Regions from separate parts of the Homo sapiens genome. Here regions 1, 3, 4 and 5 are each reported to be linked to region 2. The links are microRNA targets in miRTarBase. Many come from high-throughput screens and were not tested one by one. Region 2 holds a microRNA gene; each other region holds the end of a gene's coding sequence.

Evidence for each region. The annotated mature microRNA hsa-miR-4680-3p reads UCUGAAUUGUAAGAGUUGUUA and lies in region 2 at 2,297-2,317, opposite strand. An mRNA with a match to its seed (bases 2 to 7 or 8) in the 3' UTR can be bound and repressed. Matches are read on the target gene's strand: a 7mer-m8 pairs with bases 2 to 8, a 7mer-A1 pairs with bases 2 to 7 and ends in A, and an 8mer does both.
Region 1: the mRNA of RNF13 is a reported target of hsa-miR-4680-3p. Seed matches in the 3' UTR shown: 7mer-m8 at 3,434-3,440 and 7mer-m8 at 3,184-3,190.
Region 3: the mRNA of CDCA4 is a reported target of hsa-miR-4680-3p. Seed matches in the 3' UTR shown: 7mer-m8 at 3,528-3,534.
Region 4: the mRNA of HSPA13 is a reported target of hsa-miR-4680-3p. Seed matches in the 3' UTR shown: 7mer-m8 at 2,875-2,881.
Region 5: the mRNA of NEGR1 is a reported target of hsa-miR-4680-3p. Seed matches in the 3' UTR shown: 7mer-m8 at 3,930-3,936 and 7mer-A1 at 4,828-4,834.

What each region holds. Positions count from the first base shown.
Region 1 is chr3:149,959,962-149,964,760 of GRCh38, reverse strand. It overlaps RNF13 (ring finger protein 13), which reads right to left. Exons shown (of 10, transcript NM_183381.3): 9 at 4,625-4,705; 10 at 2,622-4,021. The coding sequence ends at 3,657. Among named protein-coding and RNA genes, the nearest start is that of PFN2, 8.5 kb to the left of the region's middle.
Region 2 is chr10:110,895,736-110,900,447 of GRCh38, reverse strand. It overlaps MIR4680 (microRNA 4680), which reads right to left and starts at 2,358; the gene lies at 2,293-2,358. It overlaps PDCD4 (programmed cell death 4), which reads right to left. Exons shown (of 12, transcript NM_014456.5): 11 at 4,361-4,500; 12 at 442-2,420. The coding sequence ends at 2,360. BBIP1 (BBSome interacting protein 1) reads left to right here. Exons shown (of 4, transcript NM_001195305.3): 4 at 1-1,718. The coding sequence ends at 88.
Region 3 is chr14:105,007,329-105,012,183 of GRCh38, forward strand. It overlaps CDCA4 (cell division cycle associated 4), which reads right to left. Exons shown (of 2, transcript NM_017955.4): 2 at 2,245-4,607. The coding sequence starts at 4,601. The coding sequence ends at 3,876. Among named protein-coding and RNA genes, the nearest start is that of CDCA4, 11 kb to the right of the region's middle.
Region 4 is chr21:14,370,186-14,374,185 of GRCh38, forward strand. It overlaps HSPA13 (heat shock protein family A (Hsp70) member 13), which reads right to left. Exons shown (of 5, transcript NM_006948.5): 5 at 930-4,000. The coding sequence ends at 3,432. Among named protein-coding and RNA genes, the nearest start is that of HSPA13, 11 kb to the right of the region's middle.
Region 5 is chr1:71,403,259-71,408,113 of GRCh38, reverse strand. NEGR1 (neuronal growth regulator 1) reads left to right here. Exons shown (of 7, transcript NM_173808.3): 7 at 544-4,855. The coding sequence ends at 668. Among named protein-coding and RNA genes, the nearest start is that of ZRANB2-DT, 320 kb to the right of the region's middle.

The DNA of each region.
Region 1 (4,799 bases), not on the chromosome of region 2:
TAATATTACAGATAAAATTAGTGCCTGGGAATTTCTTTTTAATGGACTCTGATCTGTTACACATAGCTTTTAGTCATTTCAGGCTCATCTTCAGGAGTATGTGAGAAGCAACTGACTTATCTGCTAGAAAATAAGTATTTTCCTCTTCTTGCTGGTTTCTAGATGTGAAATCTAATAGTAAAGGGAGTACCAAGAAGGGTTTCTGCACTATTGTGGATTTTTCTGTATTGAAATGTCATATGACTTTAGATTTGGAAGCTGTGTTGGCAGGCTGAAGTCAGCCAGCTGGGGCCCTCCCACATAAGAGCAGAAGACATTCCTTAGGCAGCATATAAGATAATTGGGATGCTTTTGCATTTTTTGGCTTTGTAGTGACATGTTGACCATGGCTGTGTAATAGGTTTAAATCCAGAGGCCATAAAATCCCTGATATATATTGAAGTTTGATAAATATGTAAATTTAGGGCTATTTACATAAATCATTATTACCAACAACTGTCAAGCGGACGCTTAGAGCCAGGGGTGCTCAAAAGTTAGTAGGTCTCAGTAAAACTGGGGAGCTGGTTATAAGGCAGACTATGGACTCTGGGGTTCCACTCTGGAGATGGAGAGTCCATAAGCCCAGGAATCCCTTTTCAGAAACAATCACTGAGTCAGTCTGATTCATTTTAAGTGGTGTATATGCTACCTTTTGAGAAAAAATGGGTTAGGGAATAGGAATTAACCTGTCTTAAAATATACTATGCATAATGAAAGTTTTTTTTTCTTTGACTAGTTGTCAGGCACTGGTTGTGAATATGGTTGTACATACACAGGGATGTACAAATATGGGAGATAAAGGATTTGGGGCTATTTTGGTAGTTGGACATAACCTAGAAATTGTAAAACTATAATAAAAACCTGGTATCAGTTTCTTGACCTGTTAAGGCCAAAAGACGGGGCAAATGAAAATTTGGTGGTTGAGTTGTGATGATTTGAGATTTTACAATAATACACATTCACACTTTACATGTAAAGAACTATTAGGGTAACCAATTATAGAAGGCAGTGACCAAAATTCTGAAACTCTTAATTAATCTGTAAGTAGGTGAAGGGGCAGTGTGTATGTGTGTGTTCAGAGAGGAGGTTGTGGGTAGAGAAGGTGGTAAAGGGTGAGTGTATCACTAAAATAGTATATAATGAAACTATTCATTGGCTTTCTACCCACAATTTCATTAGAAAAATACTTAGGGAAATACATACATGCGTACTTTGCTTTGTACTTAGTTCTAGGAATTTAGCATATGGAAATGAAGCTATACAAATTTGTATACCAGAATGTCCATCATGCTGCATTACTTATGACATCCAAACTTGGAAAATATCTACAAAGTTCAGCTTTTTAAGGGGTATGGTTTGAATAAATGATTTTAAGTCCATAGGACAAAATAGTCATTGAAGAATGACATAAGAATGTTTACCAATGAATGTTAATAATATAAGGATATAAACATGTCACATGACAGTGCACATACATACAGTATTAATATACATGTATTTTACATATGTATTTCTGAAGGCAATATATTAAGATAAATTTATCTCTGGAGTGAAAGTTTCCAGGTGACTATATTTTGATTTCTAGTGTTAATATTACTTTTGTAATCAAGAAAGTTTTAAATGTTTTTTAAATAGAAATTGGATTTTAATTGCACCTACTGTCCTGTTTGAAAAGCTATACCATGAAATTATAGAACATTTCAAGTGAACATTCACAGAACCTAGTAACAGCCCTAGCCAGTGCTGCTAAATAAGACACTTCGTAGATTTTTTTTTACAGTTAGTTAGTAATTATTTGGAATTTCAAAAAAAAATTTTTTTTTCCATAAAACTCCTAACATAAAGGGACCAGGTCCTTATTCTAAACTTTGGATTAAAGACTGAGGGAATATAACATCTAATACATACTTAACCATTACCGTGACTTTTTACTTTTTTCCCTTTTCCTATTTTAAAATATTGTTTTAGGTTTGTTTTTATTTAATAATAATTATTTTGAAGGCTATTACTTATTGCGCATTGATGTGCCAGATACTGAGCTCAATGTTTTCTCCTCACACCCTCTTAGGTTAAATGAAAATTATGCAAATGACCAAGCAGGTTTAAAAAGGTTAGGGCCATACAATTATGTCAAATTCCAAACTCTGCTTAACTACCGTGGTAACCTTTGATGTCCTGTTTCTCAGGCCTGTGGTTCTTTAATTTTTTATAAAAAAGGGGAAGAGGGATGAGGTATCAGATAGCTGATGTTGAATTCAACCGTTTATTTTCCAAAGTAGAAATACCTATTTATTTTTTTCCTGATTATGAACATTATTTTTTAAAAGGCAATTTGGAAAGTGAAATTTTCCCTCGATATACCATAATTTACAACAGGGTACCAAAATGTACACTGTTTATTTTTGGAATAATTTTGGCAGCAGTCTAAACTTTTTGGGATATTACCTAACTGCATGTGAATGGTCAGTTACCTTGTATAAAGTCCTAAGGTGATGTGATTTCTCTGACCTCAATCATTATCACTTTATAGGATATATATAAATAAGGCTAATATGGTAAGTAATACTACAGTAGAACAGACATTTACTGGATCTTAAAGTGGAAAACATGTTTATTAACATTCAAACTCCCCTCATACAAGGCCATATAAAAATCCTTAGCATTTTGATTATACATTAGTCTACACTTTCTACATAGTTACAATGATGTATAATTTAGCTTTTCATAATACAGTGTTTCAATACATCATTAGTTCTGTTAAACATAAGTCACTTACTTTCAAATCCAATACTTGAACAGTTTCCTCTGTACATAGTTTAGCAGGGCTAATTAGCATAAGATGCTATTTATTAAGAGGTATATGATCTGAGTATTAACAGTTGCTGAAGTTTGGTATTTTTATGCAGCATTTTCTTTTTGCTTTGATAACACTACAGAACCCTTAAGGACACTGAAAATTAGTAAGTAAAGTTCAGAAACATTAGCTGCTCAATCAAATCTCTACATAACACTATAGTAATTAAAACGTTAAAAAAAAGTGTTGAAATCTGCACTAGTATAGACCGCTCCTGTCAGGATAAGACTGCTTTGGAACAGAAAGGGAAAAAACAGCTTTGAGTTTCTTTGTGCTGATAGGAGGAAAGGCTGAATTACCTTGTTGCCTCTCCCTAATGATTGGCAGGTCAGGTAAATGCCAGAACATATTCCAACTCAACAACTCTAGGTAACTTTATGGAGGTGGAAGCTGGGTTAGTTCATGCTAGGTGGCTGTAGCACTGACCTCATGTATAAAACGCAAAACACTTAAATACTGTGATCTAGGTCTTAATTGCAAGCTATACTGAGGATTTTTTTTTTTTTATGTTTTGGCTATACTTTCATTCCAAAAGAAGAGCTGAATTGATGCTTGAGTTACAGCACCAGTCTATTATTAGTGAATGAAGTATATTCTTGGCAGATAAATACCAGATCAAAAGTCCTGTTTCAGTAATTTGATTAAACTGTAGAATACTAAAAAATAAGTTATTTCTACAGAAATCTTTGAAGGGAGCAAAAAATCAAATTACAGTATATACCTAATCATTTTAAAGGGAAATAAACCAATCATCTTCTGAAAGTCAAACAGTATTTGCTATGTTGTAATCCCGTTCACCATTAGGCTGCAACTGGACCACGACATCATGTTCATTAATTTCATTTTCTGCATCACTACTGTCAGTATCTTCATTGTCGTCTTCCTCATAGTCTGAAGATTCTGTCATGTTCTGATGTGAGCGGGATTCCGATAAAGCCCCAAATGACTGGGCACTGACAGAAGCTAAAGGTCTCAGTAAAGGGGTATGTTCTGTCACTTCATTTTCTTCTTGACTACTGTCTGTGTCAGAGTCTGAATCGCCTTGAGAAGGAACAACTTTTTGCTTGCACACTGGACAGGTTTTTTTGGTTTTAGTTAGCCAAGGGTCTACACACTTGCAGTGATAAGCTGTTGAAGCAAAATATACATCTTTAGTTAGTATGCTGCGGTTGATACTTTTATATTTAATCTCTTGCCATATTTATTCAGTGTTCTGTATGTATCATGTAGGGACGGGAAGAAAGTTTATTTTTTATTTTTATTTTTATTTTTTTTTGAGATGGAGTCTTGCTCTGTCACCCAGGCTGGAGTGCAGTGGCACAATCTCAGCTCACTGTAACCTCTGCCTCCTGGGTTCACGCCATTGTCCTGCCTCAGCCTCCCTAGTAGCTGGGGACTACAGGCGCCCGCCACCACACCCAGCTAATTTTTTGTATTTTTAGTAGAGACGGGGTTTCACTGTGTAAGCCAGGATGGTCTCGATCTCCTGACCTCATGATCTGCCTGCCTCGGCCTCCCAAAGTGCTGGGATTACAGGCGTGAGCCACCATGCCCGGCCTGAAAGTTTATAAATTTTTATAAATACACCTCCATCCTTGAATGAGACCACTAATTAGTACAGGGCCTGGCTTCTGGTGTGCTAATAACTATTTTCCATCTCTTCCCCTGGAATATGGAACCTAAATATAAATTACTATATGTAAATTCAAAGCAGTACGTAATTACTCATACCATGGGAACAGGGAAGGATTCTGAGTTTGTCTCCATCTTCATACTCATCCAAACAAATGGCACATACATCATACTCATCTCCTGAAAACAGAAAATATGTAGAGAACTATTTTTTCACCTTTCAAACTTTTCAAGTTAGTCCTCAGTTACTGCCTTTTGATGTATTTATCTTTGA
Region 2 (4,712 bases):
AAAACTAGAGAAAATGCATCAAGCAGCACAGAATACAATTCGCCAACAAGAAATGGCAGAAAAGGATCAACGGCAAATAACCCACTGAATGATAACTGAGCACTTTAGGGAACAACCTGCCTTATCTACTATTTAACAATAACTAGAAAATATGCTTCTGTGTGCTGAAAGTAGTATGTGTTATCAATAAAATTGATAGTATTCATAGAAATACAAAAATATCCAAGATTGATGAAATTTGTATTGTGAATGTAAACACTCTGGTTTGTATTGAACATAAACAGTTAAACTATGAACCAAGTTTTATGGGGTTTAAGTCATGTTTTTAGAATTGCAAATTAAATTATTTGTTCACCATTCCTATTGCTATCTTTTATAGATAACATTCTTGGGATCTTTTATAGCATTCTTGGGCACAAGGGATTAAATACAACTTTTATATACAGAGGATCTTTACATGTTTATTAAATCTGAATTTGAAGATACATTCCAATCTTGCATAAAGTGTTTGTTGGGCTTTTACATTACGTAATTAAAAAACAAAATTTTTTAACCAATTTTATGTGCCATGTCACGTTTAATGCTATCTTGTGTGACCAGATCCCACCAGTAATGACAAAACTGTCTTAAACCTCATTTTTTTTTTTTTTTGAGACAAGAGTTTCACTCTTGTTGCCCAAACGAGAGCAATGGCACCATCTCGACTCACTGCAACCTCTGCCTCCCAGGTTCAAGCAATTCTCCTGCCTCAGCCTCCCAAGTAGCTGGGATTACACGCATGCGCCACCATGCCTGGCTACTTTTGTATTTTTAATAGAGACAGGGTTTCTTCATGTTGGTCAAGCTGGTCATGAACTCCCAACCTCAAGTGATCCGCCCACCTCGGCCTCCCAAAGTGCTGGGATTACAGGCATGAGCCACCGTGCCCAGCCCTTAAATCTCATTTTTAAGAAACCCTCACCTATTCTGTAGTCAGCTAAGCTTTTAATTACATTAATTTTAAGCACTTGAGAATAAAATGACTGCATTTATCATCCAAGTGTCAAACAATTAAAAACCTAAAAATGGTAACTATATATAAGCTGAGGTAATATGGGCTTGATAAAGCCCATGAGGTAAATATGAACACTAAACTTGGTTTTAATTCTAACAGACTATATCTAAACCTGTAAGCAGTATACTCCTAACAGTACCCTCATAAATTCTGAATATAATTCTTGTTTGCTGCAGTCAATATTTGGCAGTTTAAATTAGCACAGACGTTGAGGCCTTGCTGAGTTATTAGGCTATGTAAAAGAGGTTAAAAATATGATCATTCTTTATTGTTAATTGGTAATATTTTCTCATACATTAGGTAAATGTCAAGCTTTGGGTCTCTGGAGTATAACTTTTTGTAACATTAGCCATTATTTGGTAACAGAATTTAAGGATGATGGAATGATGGAAGGTATTACATATTTCTAAAACTTAATTAAGCTCTAGGTCAGATAACAATGGAGTAAAGTGATACCTGCATTTTTTTCCCCAGTGTAATCTTAATTTACTATTGTATTTTTCACTTAAAATTTTGTAGGGAAAAAAAGTTTTCAAGGGAACACTAAGATTAAATTGACTAGGTTCAAATATGCTTCCTTATGAGATTCAAAATTTACTGTGTGAAATTAAAGTTTAAGAGACCTAAAAAAATGTACTCCCAATAAAGAATCAATACTGCTTCACATGTTTTATTTTGGTGTACATTCTTCTAGAACCAGGTTCATTTTTCCAGTTTTGTAGAAAAATAGATGTTCCAGCCACCTTTTACTTAACTGTCTAGTCTTTTAAGACCAATCAGTATGTTCCCTGGAAAGATGAATAAGTCTCATGACTAATTTTTTAAAAATTCTTTAAGACAAAGAAATAACTTTCTTTTTTTACTCCCAAAGCACAGTATCTCAACAGCAGCAGCCAACATGGGGTTTTAGCAGCTTAACTTTACCCCCTAAATAAAGCTTTGTATAAACCAGTGATTTTACTACAAAAAACACTGTCCTTGAAAGAAAGGAGTGGCAGTCAGACATCAATGCAAAACTTGGAATGATTAGATAATAAACATGGCACTTACAAAAGGTAGCTTATTAGAATATTCCACTTAAGAAGAGGTTACTTTTCTGTCCCTCCTTGCCCCCTCGAAAAACAAAAAAAAAAGAAAAAACATTTCCTTTAAAAATTCCCCTTAAATGTAGGTTTATAAAATGTCAGAAATGCCTTGTACCCAAAACAAGTGCTTAAAAAAAAAAAAAAAAAAAACTTGTGCTAACAACTCTTACAATTCAGATATATATTTTTATAACATCTAAGACTGCAAGAGTTCTTATATTCAGTAGCTCTCTGGTTTAAGACGACCTCCATCTCCTTCGCTTACAAAACGCTTTCTGCCCCTGTAATGAAGAAAAAAAAAGACATGAAAACAGATACAAATTCTGACTATAGTCAATATATAAAAAAATTAAAAACTTGGTATTTTTTCGTTACGTGTTAGCTTTTAAAGGGTTTTCCATTAAAAAAAAAAAGCATGCCTCTAATTCCTTTGGAAAAGACTCCCTACTATATATCTTAGCATAAAACATCAATATCAAATCTGAGTTTTTGTTTTAATAAGTTCACTATCCAAACAGAGTCACATTAAAAAAAGTTGACTCAAACTAAAACATTTTATTTAGAAATTTAAAATTATTTCTAATTAATTTCTAATTATTATTTGTAAGCTTAACAGTAAGCCAAATAGGAAACACTAACATAATTCAGAATTATGCAAACTGGAGCTGTGCAACCTATCAAAATATCCATGTTTGGCAATTTAAAAAAAAATGTTTTATCAACTGTAGAAAAGCCATAACTTGAATGTGGAAAAAAATCAGAATTACAGCCTATGCCCCATTTTGGGATTCGTGCTTTGTCAAACTCAAGAAGCCCTGCTCTATAATGTAACCACACTCTTACCTACATGTAGTGGCAATAGCCCAGAAGGAACAGCTGGCCAGTGGCCTAAAGCAGTAAGTGGGAAATAGAACTTAGGCAACATTAGCCCTTACTCTCTGACCCCAGGCCAATAGGCACAAGCATGCAAAACCACACACAAATGTGCACCTTACCCAAATAGGCTAAAAGATGAAGGACCCAAGTCAAAGCTGTATGGTATGTATACACAGAAAGTTTATTGCCTCATGTGACCCTTGAGAATAAAGCCACACAGAAACAATCAGACTTTCAAACAGAGGCTGAAAAACTTTCAAAAAGCCAATGCCAGGGTACTGGCCCCTTTTCATATTAAGTCTAAGTGGAAAACAGCTACATCATCTTGAACATAAAGGCTTCAGACTGTATGAGACCAAGGTAGGGAATGAAAAAGCAGTCAATAATAAGAAGGCCAAAGTTCAGAGTTTTTACTGATGTATATCACTTGGCACATCCATACATAAATCCTGCCATCACCAAGCTAACGTCTGTATTTCCAAACATTTCTAGTAAAGCTATTAAACTATCTTTCATCACTTTCTTTTCCCTCTCTTTTAATGGCTTCTAAAATTCTAAAGCAAAGGCCCCTACCAGGAAATATTTTTCTGACTTTTAATTCTTACAATGCACTTAAAAATATCAAAGCTTAAGAAATTTTCCAGATAAAAAATTATAAGAACTTAAGATTATATAAAACTGACCCACACAAGCAAAAAGTTTAGCTATTACTAAACATTTATATTATTACATTATAAGCTTCATTATTAGCTTTAACAACAACAAAAAAACTTACCAACTAGTAGCAAAAATATTAATAGCTCCAAGGAAAATCACCCACACACATACACTTTCCAGTGAGAACATCCTCCACACACCCCCCAACACACACACTTTCTAGTGAGAACATCCAATTAGCCCTAATTCTCCAACCTGTAAAGAAGTCAAGGAAGCCACATCCAGTACAGGTAAGAGCCTAGATCTTTGAAGCCAGAAAAGTCCTGAATTCATACTTGGCTTCTACCATGTACTAGCCATGTGACCTTAGAAAAAGTACATTATACCTCCCTAAGCCTCAATTTTCTCATCTTATCACTGATAATACCTACTCTAAACACTGAAACTACTTACAACAAAGGACCTGCTCCACAAGATTAGTTTCTTTCAAATAAACTAGGACTTCATGAGGCAGTCCTGTACAGATTTACAAGGGGGCTAAAACAAGCTTCGCCCTTCTTTCTCCATGAACTCACAAGAGTCACGTTCTTCAGTGACTTCAGGGAACGATAAACTAACTTAGCAGTTAACCTTCCCAAAGATCTCATCCACTATTTTACATTGAGAAAGTAGTATTTAAATAAAGTACCTTGAAGGACAAAGATCTCTGAGTTGTTTGGAAATTATTCCAGCCTGAAAACATTCTTCTACAAACCGCTCCAGCACAGAGTATGAATGTGGGACATCCAGATTAATGTCCGGAATTTCATTGTAAATTCTCTCATAACCCTACAACAATGAAATTACATGCAGAATTGTTAGCCCATATAAAATAAATGTCATAAAACACAATCCATCACTATGTCATCAATTTGTATTTAAGGCCAAATATTCAAATGGTTAAACTGAAGTCAGATTTGAATCGTGAGAAGCACAGAAAGTAGATTTGTTACAGTGTTTTACAACTGTTCTCTTTTATTAGAGTCAGGAAATAACAGACA
Region 3 (4,855 bases), not on the chromosome of region 2:
GTGGAAGGCAAGGGGGACGGATCTGAGAAGGCGGGGCTTATCTCCCAGGGGCACAGCAGAGTGAGGGATGGGCCGATGAAGTGTACGCCTGCAAGGGGCAGCAAGCAGCCCCAAGAGCTTAAACTGTCCAGCTGCAGCAAGTCTGCTGGAGCGACCAAGCAACATGTGTCACCTCAACTGAGGGCTGCACTTGGCAGTCACATCTTCCCAGACGGGCGATCGCCACTCCTGAGAATACTGCAAAGGCTCATCACTGAGAAAGGGAGGTTACCCTCGAACCCTCAGGCATCCACACATCACAACTCCCCTCCCTGCTTGGCTCCACTACAAACCCTGAGCAGGCACTGAGGACACAGCCACCTCCACACAGGGCATGAGAAGGAACAGCGGCCTTCCTGTGAGTAAATGCAGCAACCCAGCACACACAGCACTGCCACATGGAAAGCTTGGTTCAGGTCACAGCAAAATCCCAGTTTAAGGACACGGCTCGCTGGTTGCAGATAGAAACTTCTAGCAACCCAGAAACCAACTGTGAGAGTTTATGATGAGGGACGTGATCCCACCACTCTGTCTTTAGGTAGACACCAAGGCAACACATCAAGTGTCCACACCTCAGACACCCACCCACCCCAGCCCGGCCCTTTCCGGTGGCTCCGCCAGCCTGCTCACCCGGCTACCTGGACTCCACAGGGTGAGCACAATGTCCACACTTGTTCCGCAGTTTGCTGCTGCGTCCTCCTTCCATCACTGCCGGGCCCACTTCACTAAGGAGTGAACCTGGGAGAAGGCGCCTGGCCCAGATGTGGCCCAGCAGGGATCCAGGCCCAGATGGCTGGGCTCAGCCCTGTGGAGACCACCCCCTCCCACCCCGCCCCGCCCCCGAGGAAATCCTGCGCAGGCATCTGTGGGCGGAGCAGGTAGCGTTCTCCAAGGTGCGCTGTCACCCCTGAAAGGAAGATCGGTTCCCTGGGAGGAGTCTGCTATCTTCATACTGGTTCCATGTCTTCAAATAAACGTGCATTACTTTATAACCCTAGAAACCGAACTTCTGAGGTAGAAGGGGCTCCGAAGCTGTGTGCAAGGCATGCTGCACGTGAGGGGTACCCACCACACGTCAGGAAACGCCCCTGGGAAACTGTCAACTAACATGCCCGCTCCCCTCAGTTTGGCCAGAAGCAAACCGCAGAGAACAGTGCCAAGTTTAGATGACTGGAATTTGTATTTCTGTTTCTGAATAAACATTTTGTAAACAAAATTATTAAACACTTGGAAAATTTCTTCCCAATTAAAGTCAATTTGTACCTACAGACTTAAAAATACCACATACATGGCCAGGTGCGGTGGCTCACGCCTATATTCCCAGCACTTTGGGAGGCCGAGGCAGGTGGATCACCTGAGGTTGGGAGTTCGAGACCAGTCTCATCAACATGGTGAAACCCCATCTCTACTAAAAATATAAAAATTAGCCGGGCGTGGTGGCACATGCCTGTAATCCCAGCTACTTGGGAGGCTGAGGCAGGAGAATCGCTTGAACCTGGGAGGCAGAGGTTGCAGTGAGCCAAGGTCACGCCATTGCACTCCAGCCTGGGCAACAAAAGTTAAATCCTGTCAAAAAACCAAGAATGCCAGGCGCGGTGGCTCACGCCTGTAATCCTAGCATTTTGGGAGGCTGAGGCAGGTGAATCATGAGGTCAGGAGTTCGAGACCATCCTGGCAACACGGTGAAACCCTGTCTCTACTAAAAATACACCAAATTAGCTGGGCGTAGTGGTGGGTGCCTGTAATCCCAGCTACTTGGGAGGCTGAAGCAGGAGAATCGCTTGAACCTGGGAGGCAGAGGTTGCGGTGAGCCAAGATCGCGCCACTGCACTCCAGCCTGGGAGACAGAGCGAGACTCCATCAAAAAAAAAGAAAAAAAAAAAACAAAAAAAAACAAAGCCACACACACGGACTAAACTTGCAGAGAAATGATGCTTGGAAAACAGCTGATTACTCAGCCACTGCGCACCACGGTGGAAACAAGCAGGCTTTGGTGTACGGTGTCACAGGTGAACACGGCGAGTCCAGGGAATGAGACTCCGGCTACACTTCTAAGTCACAGCAGCTGTTCTCTCCTGTCTGTGGTCCTTCCACAGACCCAGTCTGTTTTCCGACCAAGCACCCCTAAAGCGCTCAAAAGTCACATTCTCTGAGCAGTTTATAATTTTGAAGGCTACCAAAACAGGCACTACAACTACTACTAATGCTGAACAAATGATGTTTCTAAAAGATAAAAATGCTATACAGAAACAAAATAGTGCTTTAGATTTATTCCTATAAAACACATACCCTTTAAACTAGGGTCCATGAGGATTAACTTTCGACATCGGGGGCTGTCAGAGGTCGTGGACACCCCCAACTCCAGCCGGGCGCTGAACAATGTAAAAAGAATTTGCTCTGCAACCCTGTGGGGGGGGGAAATAAAAGTAACCCAGCGTCCATTTAATGCAGCCAAGTGCAATTCCTTTCCCCACCTTAGAAAGCACCACCAGATAATACAGCAGAACTGATCCTGCAGAAAGGTTGCTGGAGGGTCAGGCCGTGGTCGTAACTAACACCACATTCCCATTTTGTTTGCTGGATAATTTTTTAATAAAGTGAGGTTTACATCACTGATATTTAAGAATGGCTATATGCACAAAAGAAAACACACCTTTTTGGTTAAGGGGTGAGGAAGTTAGAGAAAGCATGAGAAACAGGGAGCATGTGGGGTGAGGCGGGGCAGGAGTGGAAGGCTGCAGGCACCCCCAGCTCACTCCCTGCCTGCGGCAGCACCCATGACACTACAGATCAAGGGGTTATGAATGACATGGATTCAGATTTCTTTCATTCTAGACTTCAACCTAGCCTTAACCTTTTGTTTCAGCACCAGTCTAACAGAGCAGCGCAGGCGTTTCTCATCCAGCAGCAATGCTACTTCCTCACCCAGGGCAGGTGCATGGGCTGACCCTGATGGGAGCCTCCAGGAACACTGCCTTGAGAAGGCACCACCGAGGGGCTATGAGGTCCCTGAAGACCAACTGGTGCCTGTGATCTACAAACAGACAAATATTTGACCTTTGTCTTCAATGACATTTACATATAAATAGACATAAATAAAATCCTCCATAATTTACTCTTAGGTCTAGGAAGATGTGGCTGTGTGCGGCTCCTGATTTTCACCCAGGTCTCACTGCAGCGCAGGACATAATGAAGAAGTATCACACACACATTTAAAGTAAAACATGATACATTCACACTGTTGACTGAGACTGTAGTGATGCTCACTGCAAAAAACAAAACAAAACAAAAAACCCTTATTTAAACCTTAAAAAAATGAAACACACCAACTGCAATTGTTTAGGCTATAAAAGTTCTAATGTAGCAGCAAAGGATGTTTATAGAAAAAATATACTTTTAAGAAAATAGCTGAAAAAATCTAAAGAGATAAGGTATAAAAAGTTTAAAAAATATATCTTAAGACAAAATACTGCCCAAAACATGTAAAACTGAATTGTAAAAATTCACCTATCTAAAGGTAAAAGGAGGTTGATGCAGCTGCGGCTCACCGTCCTCTACAGTGGGGGACACAAAGAGACACGAGGGGCCCAGGGCTGTGGGGACGTCAGAAGACAAGAAGCCTTCCAGAACAGCCTCTGCCTGGCGCTCCACAGGGGGGAGGTGAGTGGGACGGGCCTAGGGCTGCAGCCCCACTGGTAATGGGCTGTTCTGGGATTTCTCAGAATCAGCAGACAGGGCAGCAAGGCTGGGCCGCTGGCGGCAGGCGCACCCTCCGTGGGAGCCAGTGCTCACGTGTCAATGCGTCAGAGGCGGCTGTGAGCACTCAGGGCTCCTGCTCAGGTCTCCACCAGGATCTCCACCACGTGGTCCAGCTCGCCCAGGTCGGACTTGCAGCTGGAGCTAGGGCCTGGGGTGGCCGGAGCCAAGCCCTCGAGCCCTTCGCAGGGGCCCGGCCTGGCACCCCCCATCATGCCTGTCAGTACTGTGTCCAGGTCGTAGTAGGGGCTGTCCACGTCTGAGAACAGCTCTTCCATGCAGCTGGGGTTTTTAGTCTCCAGCGTTTCAAATATCTGATCAAGTGACTTGTGAAAGCTTCCTCTGTTTTCTCGAGGGCCATCCATCTCCCAGGCGCTGCTCTGCAGGTGCCTTGGTGCCTGTGCTGAGGTGACTGGGCAAAGGTCAGAAACTGGACCCTGTGTGTGGCCGTCCCCCAAGCCAGGAGCAGGATGTGCCCCCTCTTGCCCCCACGCTGCACGGCACAGGATCTCCGTGGAGACCAAGCGGTCGAGCGGCGCCCGCTCTGCAGCCTGGGGTGCCACTGTGCGCCACGTCCCATCCTGCGTCATCTCCTCTTGGATCTGCCGGACCGTGTTGGCAATGAGGACTGAGCGGCACAGGTTGGGCTCCACAAGCATGTGGCAAAGCTGCAACTTCACCAGAGACATGTCCAGGAGCGACTGCCGCTGCAGGCTGTATGAGGACACTGTCTTCAAGCCGGCCAGGGCTCCCTCCACGTCTTCCTCGTGGCCAACACATTTCCTCTTCAGTCCTCGTGCAAACATTGTGTCCTGCAGAAACCAAGGAAGACACCACTTAGCACACGGCAGACTCTCTGCGGACAGCGCCCCTTGGATTTCGTCTGACTGCCCTCACTGTACGCAAGGAGCAGCGACTCCGTAACTGGCAGGGACTTGACAGAGCTGTAACTCCCTAACAGAGCTGAGACGTGGAGCCCAGTGGGAGACCCCCACCCCCAGATCAGCTGCCATCCTGCCTAAGCCAGGCACAGTCACGTTGTTAGAAACGACAAACCTCT
Region 4 (4,000 bases), not on the chromosome of region 2:
GGGTTCATTTCAAGAAGGCTGTCTCACATAGCTGGAAATTCGTGCCTCCTGTCAGTGGGGGGTACCTTTCTGCCTCCATGTGGCTCTCATCTTCTAGGGTGTCTTTCTACACCTGTATTCACCAGAACAGCCTTCTTCACATGGTCTTCTTTATGTGGCAGCTGGGATCCAAAAGAGAAAGCCAGCAAGAGGGTGCATCCAAGAAGGAAGCTGATCTTTTTTAAACCTAATTTCAGAAATGACATCCCAGCACTTCTGCCGTATTATTCATTAGCATTGAGTCATTATCTCTTGCCCAAATTCAAGAGAATAGGATTACCCAAGGATGTTAATTCCACAAGGTGGGATCATTGGGTCCCACATCAGAGGCTGCCTACCTCAGTGAGGCACTATCTGTTAATTAAGATAAATATGAAGTATTGCTGTATTTCCTCATATATTTGAGTCTCTCCAAGGTCAAGTATACCGTCATTACCTAAAGGCTCATCTTAGATTACATTAATCAAATGAGTTTCTTAAAGAAGCAAAACATAATATATTGTTTTTTTGTCCAAAGACTAATATAAACTTTGTTAGAGAAATATTTATTAACCATCAACCAAAGGAATCCTGTTATGCAGGATTATTTACTAACTAGCTAGATTAGGTTAGCTTAGTTTCTGGCTCCATCGTGGTCAGAAGCCATGAATTAGTATTTAGAATTCTGAAGATACTGTTCATATGCTACAAGTTGTCTTTTCTAAATTAGAGAAGCCAGTGGAAAGCATATAAGCAATAGAAAGGATATAGAGAAATGTACATTTCGGGAACAACTAGGCAACAGCTACTGAGATTGAGTGCCTTGGCATCAAATCAGTTCCATCCTCACTTTCTTATTTATATGCCTGAAAAGTATACTCCAGACTAGTCCTGAATGAAAAAGTACATAGTTTAAAAAACAAACTGCAAAATGGTATTTATTTACATTAAAACATGAATTGCCTGTATACACACAAATATAAGAGGAACAATCTGTTATGCACAATAACTGTAATATTTAGTACATGTTATACACAGCAGTATCTGTTAAGTCAGTGGTTTGAGTGAAAACACAGTACCAAAACATTCCTGATACAAAATAAGTTACTCATTCACATATTCTAATCATACAAGACACTTAATATTTTAAAAGTTACATACTTCAAATAACACTGGCTAAATGTACAACTAAAGTTTATTAATTTTTTTTATGAAAAGACTTCAGATTGTTATTCATAAATGATCCCTTTCAGGATGCATTATCTTTTAAATAAATAAACTAAATTGACTTCAAGACTATTTATAAATAGCCCACTAAAATATGATTGAAGACATTCCTTCATTTTATTAAAGGTGTAGCTATATACTAGAGAATATGCTCAACTACTGCCTCCAAATTCCAACACTGTCATTCTAATTTGCAAATAGGAATTATTTAAATTCCAACTTCAGGACATGAGATGAGCTGCCTGCCCTATTTTGTCAATTGTTTCCAAAAGCATTAACGGATTAAGAGACTGTCTTGAACATCTCAAACATTTGAGAAATTCAAGGTTTTCTTTATGTTTTAAGCTGATCCTATATATGGAGATTTTGAGATAAATTGGAACACTTTTAGAAGACCTTCACAAAGAATTTTTCAATTCTAAAATCTATTACAGATTTATATAAAGTCCAAGAGAACATGTGAAATATTTTCATAATGCAGTGAAGGATTCATCTTTGGCATTTCTCCATTCATTCTAAAATAAGATACTTCAACAAACATTTTATACTTTTCTATCTACCTACTATACATATTTTCTATACACAAAAGTATTTGATTGAAATTTGTGTTTTAACAGCAATTTCATTGCTAAGAATTTTTTTTTAGATATGAAAAATATTAGTAACATTCAGCTTTTTACTATGAGAAGCTGAAGTTTTGATGTTGTTGAAATGAATTTGCTCAGTTTCCTTTTTTGGTGACCAGCATTTCAACATCCTATCGAATTCAGCAATGGATAAAGCAGAGATACTTTACAATAAAAAACAAAAAAAGGTGATCAGGATATAATTTTTGAATAATATGAAGCATTCCTCTATTAAGGAAAATATGTATATATATATATAATCTGTATCCATATATCTTCAAATACAATGGGTATGACAGAAATCAAACTGTTATATTTTCTTTCTTGGTCCCTGTGGTTTTTCTTAAAGGAAACAAACAACAAAAACAAACAACTCTGCTCCAAATGCCGATTTGTAGAAACCTTGCCACAATGGCTTCCACATTAGATTTCCACGTTACTTCCAGTATTCACAAATTTTTTGCTTTCATTACAAACTAACCTAATGTTTGAAAAGAGTCCAAGTGTGATTATTTAAAAATAATAATAGAAAACAATAACACAGCTTTTATAATTGAGCACATTTTCCTCATTCAAAACTAAATATGAGGAAAAATCTCCGTAAAACGGAACCAAAACCATTTAGTAGCTCAATTCCATGCTATATTCCCCAGGGCTTACTGAAAATATAAACAAAGAAACAAATACAGTAGGTAATTGATGCTATTTGCCAATGTTTGCAAAGGTCTCGGATAACAAAAATAAGATAGCAATCATGGCTTTATTATGACATTAACACATTCTTCAAATGCAATTACCAATTTTATTCTCTAACCAAACAGAATAATGGAAATCCAAGCAGAGAATGATGTACAGGACATAAAGGAACTAGAATATAATTGGGTATTTCTATTATATGGTGCTGAAACATTTGAATACCTTTAGAAATAAAATAAATTCATCTATTAAACACATAAAACTCCTGGAGAATGCAGATTACAAGAATATGACACTTAACAGGATACTGAATTTGTGAATGTAAATTTGTTATATAATATGGCAGTTACTGAATATTACGTATGCAGCTTATGCTAATAATACTGCTATCTTCCAACCACTGTAAATACCTGACATCAACACGGTCCTTCAAGTATAGTTCAAATTATTAGTTACATGTGATAATACAAGTAATTACCAGCTCCTGCTAATACAATTTAGTAAGAACTGGGAATCTCATAACTGGCACTACTTAATGTTTATAGAATATAATGTTAAGTGCATATGGTTATCAACCTCCAGAATCCAGAAAATATAGTTATCCATACTCTTTTAAGAGAGTTGTACCTCAATTTTATCATTTTAGAGTATTTGTTAGAATAGGATCTCTCCAAAATCAAACAGGATCAATCTGGTCACGTCTAATCCTAAGACAAAACACTATGTAAAATTTTCCTGTATCTAAATGTTGCCCTCTAGGTAAATCTGTGATATTTTAGAGACTTTCTTTTGTGGAAAAGGTAATCTGATAAATGGGAAGAGATCATCAGACAAGTTCACAAATAACCATTATTTCTGCAGAATTCAGTTGAAGTTGGTTTTTTGTAAATGCTTATTGGGAATTTCTAAAGCACTGACTTGGAGAGGCCAAGAGCCTCCATCAATCCCTGCTTGGATAGCCACTCCCGTTACTACTGCTAGGTCAGGGTCTACAGATGTGTTGGGATCTTTTCCAAAGAACTCTTGAATGACTTGACGGATCCGAGGAATACGAGTGGAGCCCCCAACTAAAACCACCTCATCAATCTCAGTCTTTTCCAGGTGGCCTTCTTTCAATACTTGCTGAATGGGTACCAGTATTTTCTGAAAGAGGTCTTCATTAAGGGTATCAAAGAGTTTCCGTGATATTTCTGTTTCAAATAAAACCTGACTTTCTCCACTTTTCTTATCAGAAAGGCCACGTCCAAACCCACTGTTCACGCGATGGTCATCTGCTGAGGAAAGTTTGTCTTTTGGCAGTTCAGTGTCACTACTGTGAGGTTCCTTCCTGTCCTGCTCCTCCACCGTTAGTAATACTGACAACTGAGCAGATTGATGAAGAGTCAGATTTAATTTGACCATTTCCACAGCTTGTCTCAATCTGTGGATTTCCT
Region 5 (4,855 bases), not on the chromosome of region 2:
AATTTGTCTGTGTTACTGGGTATGCACATGCAACTCTAATATTCTGTATTATAATTGTTTGAAGATCTTTTCTCACCAAAAAAAGGCCTTGGAAGGGACAATATTCTTGTTTTCCTAGCATTTAGTACAGTATTTAGCTAATAAAACACAGCTATATATACACATGAATGACTATTTGTCCATTAATACAAATATTTACAGTACATATAAGAGGAATAATAATGTTAGTAGCTGTTGAGTACTTAGCATGTGTTTAGTTGATGTAATATGCTGTATGTGCTTCATCTCCAATTCTCACCACAGCCCTGTGAGGTGGATTCTATTATTTCTATTATTTTCATTTTGCCCTTGAGAAAACTGAAGCTCTGAGAAGTTAGCCACATAGCCCACACGTTGTCATATAGCAGAATCAGATATGAACTTCAGTCTGTCTGACTCCAATGTCAGTGCTTTCCCCGATGCACCTGGCTACCTTTTGATTATTGTCAAGATCCTGGAAGACACAAATTAGATTTTGATTTAATCTTTTCCATTTCTTTCCAGCTCCAAGTACAGCCCAGTATGGAATTACCGGGAGCGCTGATGTTCTTTTCTCCTGCTGGTACCTTGTGTTGACACTGTCCTCTTTCACCAGCATATTCTACCTGAAGAATGCCATTCTACAATAAATTCAAAGACCCATAAAAGGCTTTTAAGGATTCTCTGAAAGTGCTGATGGCTGGATCCAATCTGGTACAGTTTGTTAAAAGCAGCGTGGGATATAATCAGCAGTGCTTACATGGGGATGATCGCCTTCTGTAGAATTGCTCATTATGTAAATACTTTAATTCTACTCTTTTTTGATTAGCTACATTACCTTGTGAAGCAGTACACATTGTCCTTTTTTTAAGACGTGAAAGCTCTGAAATTACTTTTAGAGGATATTAATTGTGATTTCATGTTTGTAATCTACAACTTTTCAAAAGCATTCAGTCATGGTCTGCTAGGTTGCAGGCTGTAGTTTACAAAAACGAATATTGCAGTGAATATGTGATTCTTTAAGGCTGCAATACAAGCATTCAGTTCCCTGTTTCAATAAGAGTCAATCCACATTTACAAAGATGCATTTTTTTCTTTTTTGATAAAAAAGCAAATAATATTGCCTTCAGATTATTTCTTCAAAATATAACACATATCTAGATTTTTCTGCTCGCATGATATTCAGGTTTCAGGAATGAGCCTTGTAATATAACTGGCTGTGCAGCTCTGCTTCTCTTTCCTGTAAGTTCAGCATGGGTGTGCCTTCATACAATAATATTTTTCTCTTTGTCTCCAACTAATATAAAATGTTTTGCTAAATCTTACAATTTGAAAGTAAAAATAAACCAGAGTGATCAAGTTAAACCATACACTATCTCTAAGTAACGAAGGAGCTATTGGACTGTAAAAATCTCTTCCTGCACTGACAATGGGGTTTGAGAATTTTGCCCCACACTAACTCAGTTCTTGTGATGAGAGACAATTTAATAACAGTATAGTAAATATACCATATGATTTCTTTAGTTGTAGCTAAATGTTAGATCCACCGTGGGAAATCATTCCCTTTAAAATGACAGCACAGTCCACTCAAAGGATTGCCTAGCAATACAGCATCTTTTCCTTTCACTAGTCCAAGCCAAAAATTTTAAGATGATTTGTCAGAAAGGGCACAAAGTCCTATCACCTAATATTACAAGAGTTGGTAAGCGCTCATCATTAATTTTATTTTGTGGCAGCTAAGTTAGTATGACAGAGGCAGTGCTCCTGTGGACAGGAGCATTTTGCATATTTTCCATCTGAAAGTATCACTCAGTTGATAGTCTGGAATGCATGTTATATATTTTAAAACTTCCAAAATATATTATAACAAACATTCTATATCGGTATGTAGCAGACCAATCTCTAAAATAGCTAATTCTTCAATAAAATCTTTCTATATAGCCATTTCAGTGCAAACAAGTAAAATCAAAAAAGACCATCCTTTATTTTTCCTTACATGATATATGTAAGATGCGATCAAATAAAGACAAAACACCAGTGATGAGAATATCTTAAGATAAGTAATTATCAAATTATTGTGAATGTTAAATTATTTCTACTATAAAGAAGCAAAACTACATTTTTGAAGGAAAATGCTGTTACTCTAACATTAATTTACAGGAATAGTTTGATGGTTTCACTCTTTACTAAAGAAAGGCCATCACCTTGAAAGCCATTTTACAGGTTTGATGAAGTTACCAATTTCAGTACACCTAAATTTCTACAAATAGTCCCCTTTTACAAGTTGTAACAACAAAGACCCTATAATAAAATTAGATACAAGAAATTTTGCAGTGGTTATACATATTTGAGATATCTAGTATGTTGCCCTAGCAGGGATGGCTTAAAAACTGTGATTTTTTTTCTTCAAGTAAAACTTAGTCCCAAAGTACATCATAAATCAATTTTAATTAGAAAAATGAATCTTAAATGAGGGGACATAAGTATACTCTTTCCACAAAATGGCAATAATAAGGCATAAAGCTAGTAAATCTACTAACTGTAATAAATGTATGACATTATTTTGATTGATACATTAAAAAAGAGTTTTTAGAACAAATATGGCATTTAACTTTATTATTTATTTGCTTTTAAGAAATATTCTTTGTGGAATTGTTGAATAAACTATAAAATATTATTTTGTATTGCAGCTTTAAAGTGGCACACTCCATAATAATCTACTTACTAGAAATAGTGGTGCTACCACAAAAAATGTTAACCATCAGTACCATTGTTTGGGAGAAAGAAACAGATCAAGAATGCATATTATTCAGTGACCGCTTTCCTAGAGTTAAAATACCTCCTCTTTGTAAGGTTTGTAGGTAAATTGAGGTATAAACTATGGATGAACCAAATAATTAGTTCAAAGTGTTGTCATGATTCCAAATTTGTGGAGTCTGGTGTTTTTACCATAGAATGTGACAGAAGTACAGTCATAGCTCAGTAGCTATATGTATTTGCCTTTATGTTAGAAGAGACTTTCTTGAGTGACATTTTTAAATAGAGGAGGTATTCACTATGTTTTTCTGTATCACAGCAGCATTCCTAGTCCTTAGGCCCTCGGACAGAGTGAAATCATGAGTATTTATGAGTTCAATATTGTCAAATAAGGCTACAGTATTTGCTTTTTTGTGTGAATGTATTGCATATAATGTTCAAGTAGATGATTTTACATTTATGGACATATAAAATGTCTGATTACCCCATTTTATCAGTCCTGACTGTACAAGATTGTTGCAATTTCAGAATAGCAGTTTTATAAATTGATTTATCTTTTAATCTATAACAATTTGTGTTAGCTGTTCATTTCAGGATTATATTTTCTACAAGTTCCACTTGTGGGACTCCTTTTGTTGCCCCTATTTTTTTTTAAAGAAGGAAGAAAGAAAAATAAGTAGCAGTTTAAAAATGAGAATGGAGAGAAAAGAAAAAGAATGAAAAGGAAAGGCAGTAAAGAGGGAAAAAAAGGAAGGATGGAAGGAATGAAGGAAGGAAGGGAGGAAGGGGAGAAGGTAGGAAGAAAGAAAGGATGAGAGGGAAGGAAGAATCAGAGTATTAGGGTAGTTAACTTACACATTTGCATTCTTAGTTTAACTGCAAGTGGTGTAACTACGTTTTTCAATGATCGCATTTGAAACATAAGTCCTATTATACCATTAAGTTCCTATTATGCAGCAATTATATAATAAAAAGTACTGCCCAAGTTATAGTAATGTGGGTGTTTTTGAGACACTAAAAGATTTGAGAGGGAGAATTTCAAACTTAAAGCCACTTTTGGGGGGTTTATAACTTAACTGAAAAATTAATGCTTCATCATAACATTTAAGCTATATCTAGAAAGTAGACTGGAGAACTGAGAAAATTACCCAGGTAATTCAGGGAAAAAAAAAAATATATATATATATAAATACCCCTACATTTGAAGTCAGAAAACTCTGAAAAACTGAATTATCAAAGTCAATCATCTATAATGATCAAATTTACTGAACAATTGTTAATTTATCCATTGTGCTTAGCTTTGTGACACAGCCAAAAGTTACCTATTTAATCTTTTCAATAAAAATTGTTTTTTGAAATCCAGAAATGATTTAAAAAGAGGTCAGGTTTTTAACTATTTATTGAAGTATGTGGATGTACAGTATTTCAATAGATATGAATATGAATAAATGGTATGCCTTAAGATTCTTTGAATATGTATTTACTTTAAAGACTGGAAAAAGCTCTTCCTGTCTTTTAGTAAAACATCCATATTTCATAACCTGATGTAAAATATGTTGTACTGTTTCCAATAGGTGAATATAAACTCAGTTTATCAATTAAAATATGTATTTGACTCATTTTAAAACTCTATTAGCTTAAGAGAAAGAAGGAAGAAATAATAATTTGAAGATATTTCTGCTATTCTCTTTATTTCCTGTATTACACTCATCTTTCTGCTTACTCTAAAGCAGTACAGGGTAAAAATTCTAGATGCTACAGTTTCAAATGACTCCACACTATATTCTTTCTTGCTGTTGCTGATTCCTAAAAGGTTTGATGAGCTGAACTACATCTAAACTAAAAATAAATTTTCTGGAAACATTTTATTATTAATTATTTAGAACCTTTACCTGGTAAAATACAGCAGAGTTAGCAACAGAGACTAAATATCCTGTTGATAAAATCCTGATGATCTTACAGGCTAAACAACTGAAAACTCAAACGCTTGTAAGAGCCAGGCAGAGTGTAATTTCTTAACAGCTGGGTATAAAACAACGGGCACCTGAAGGTATTCAGATACAATTTCCTTAAAAATACC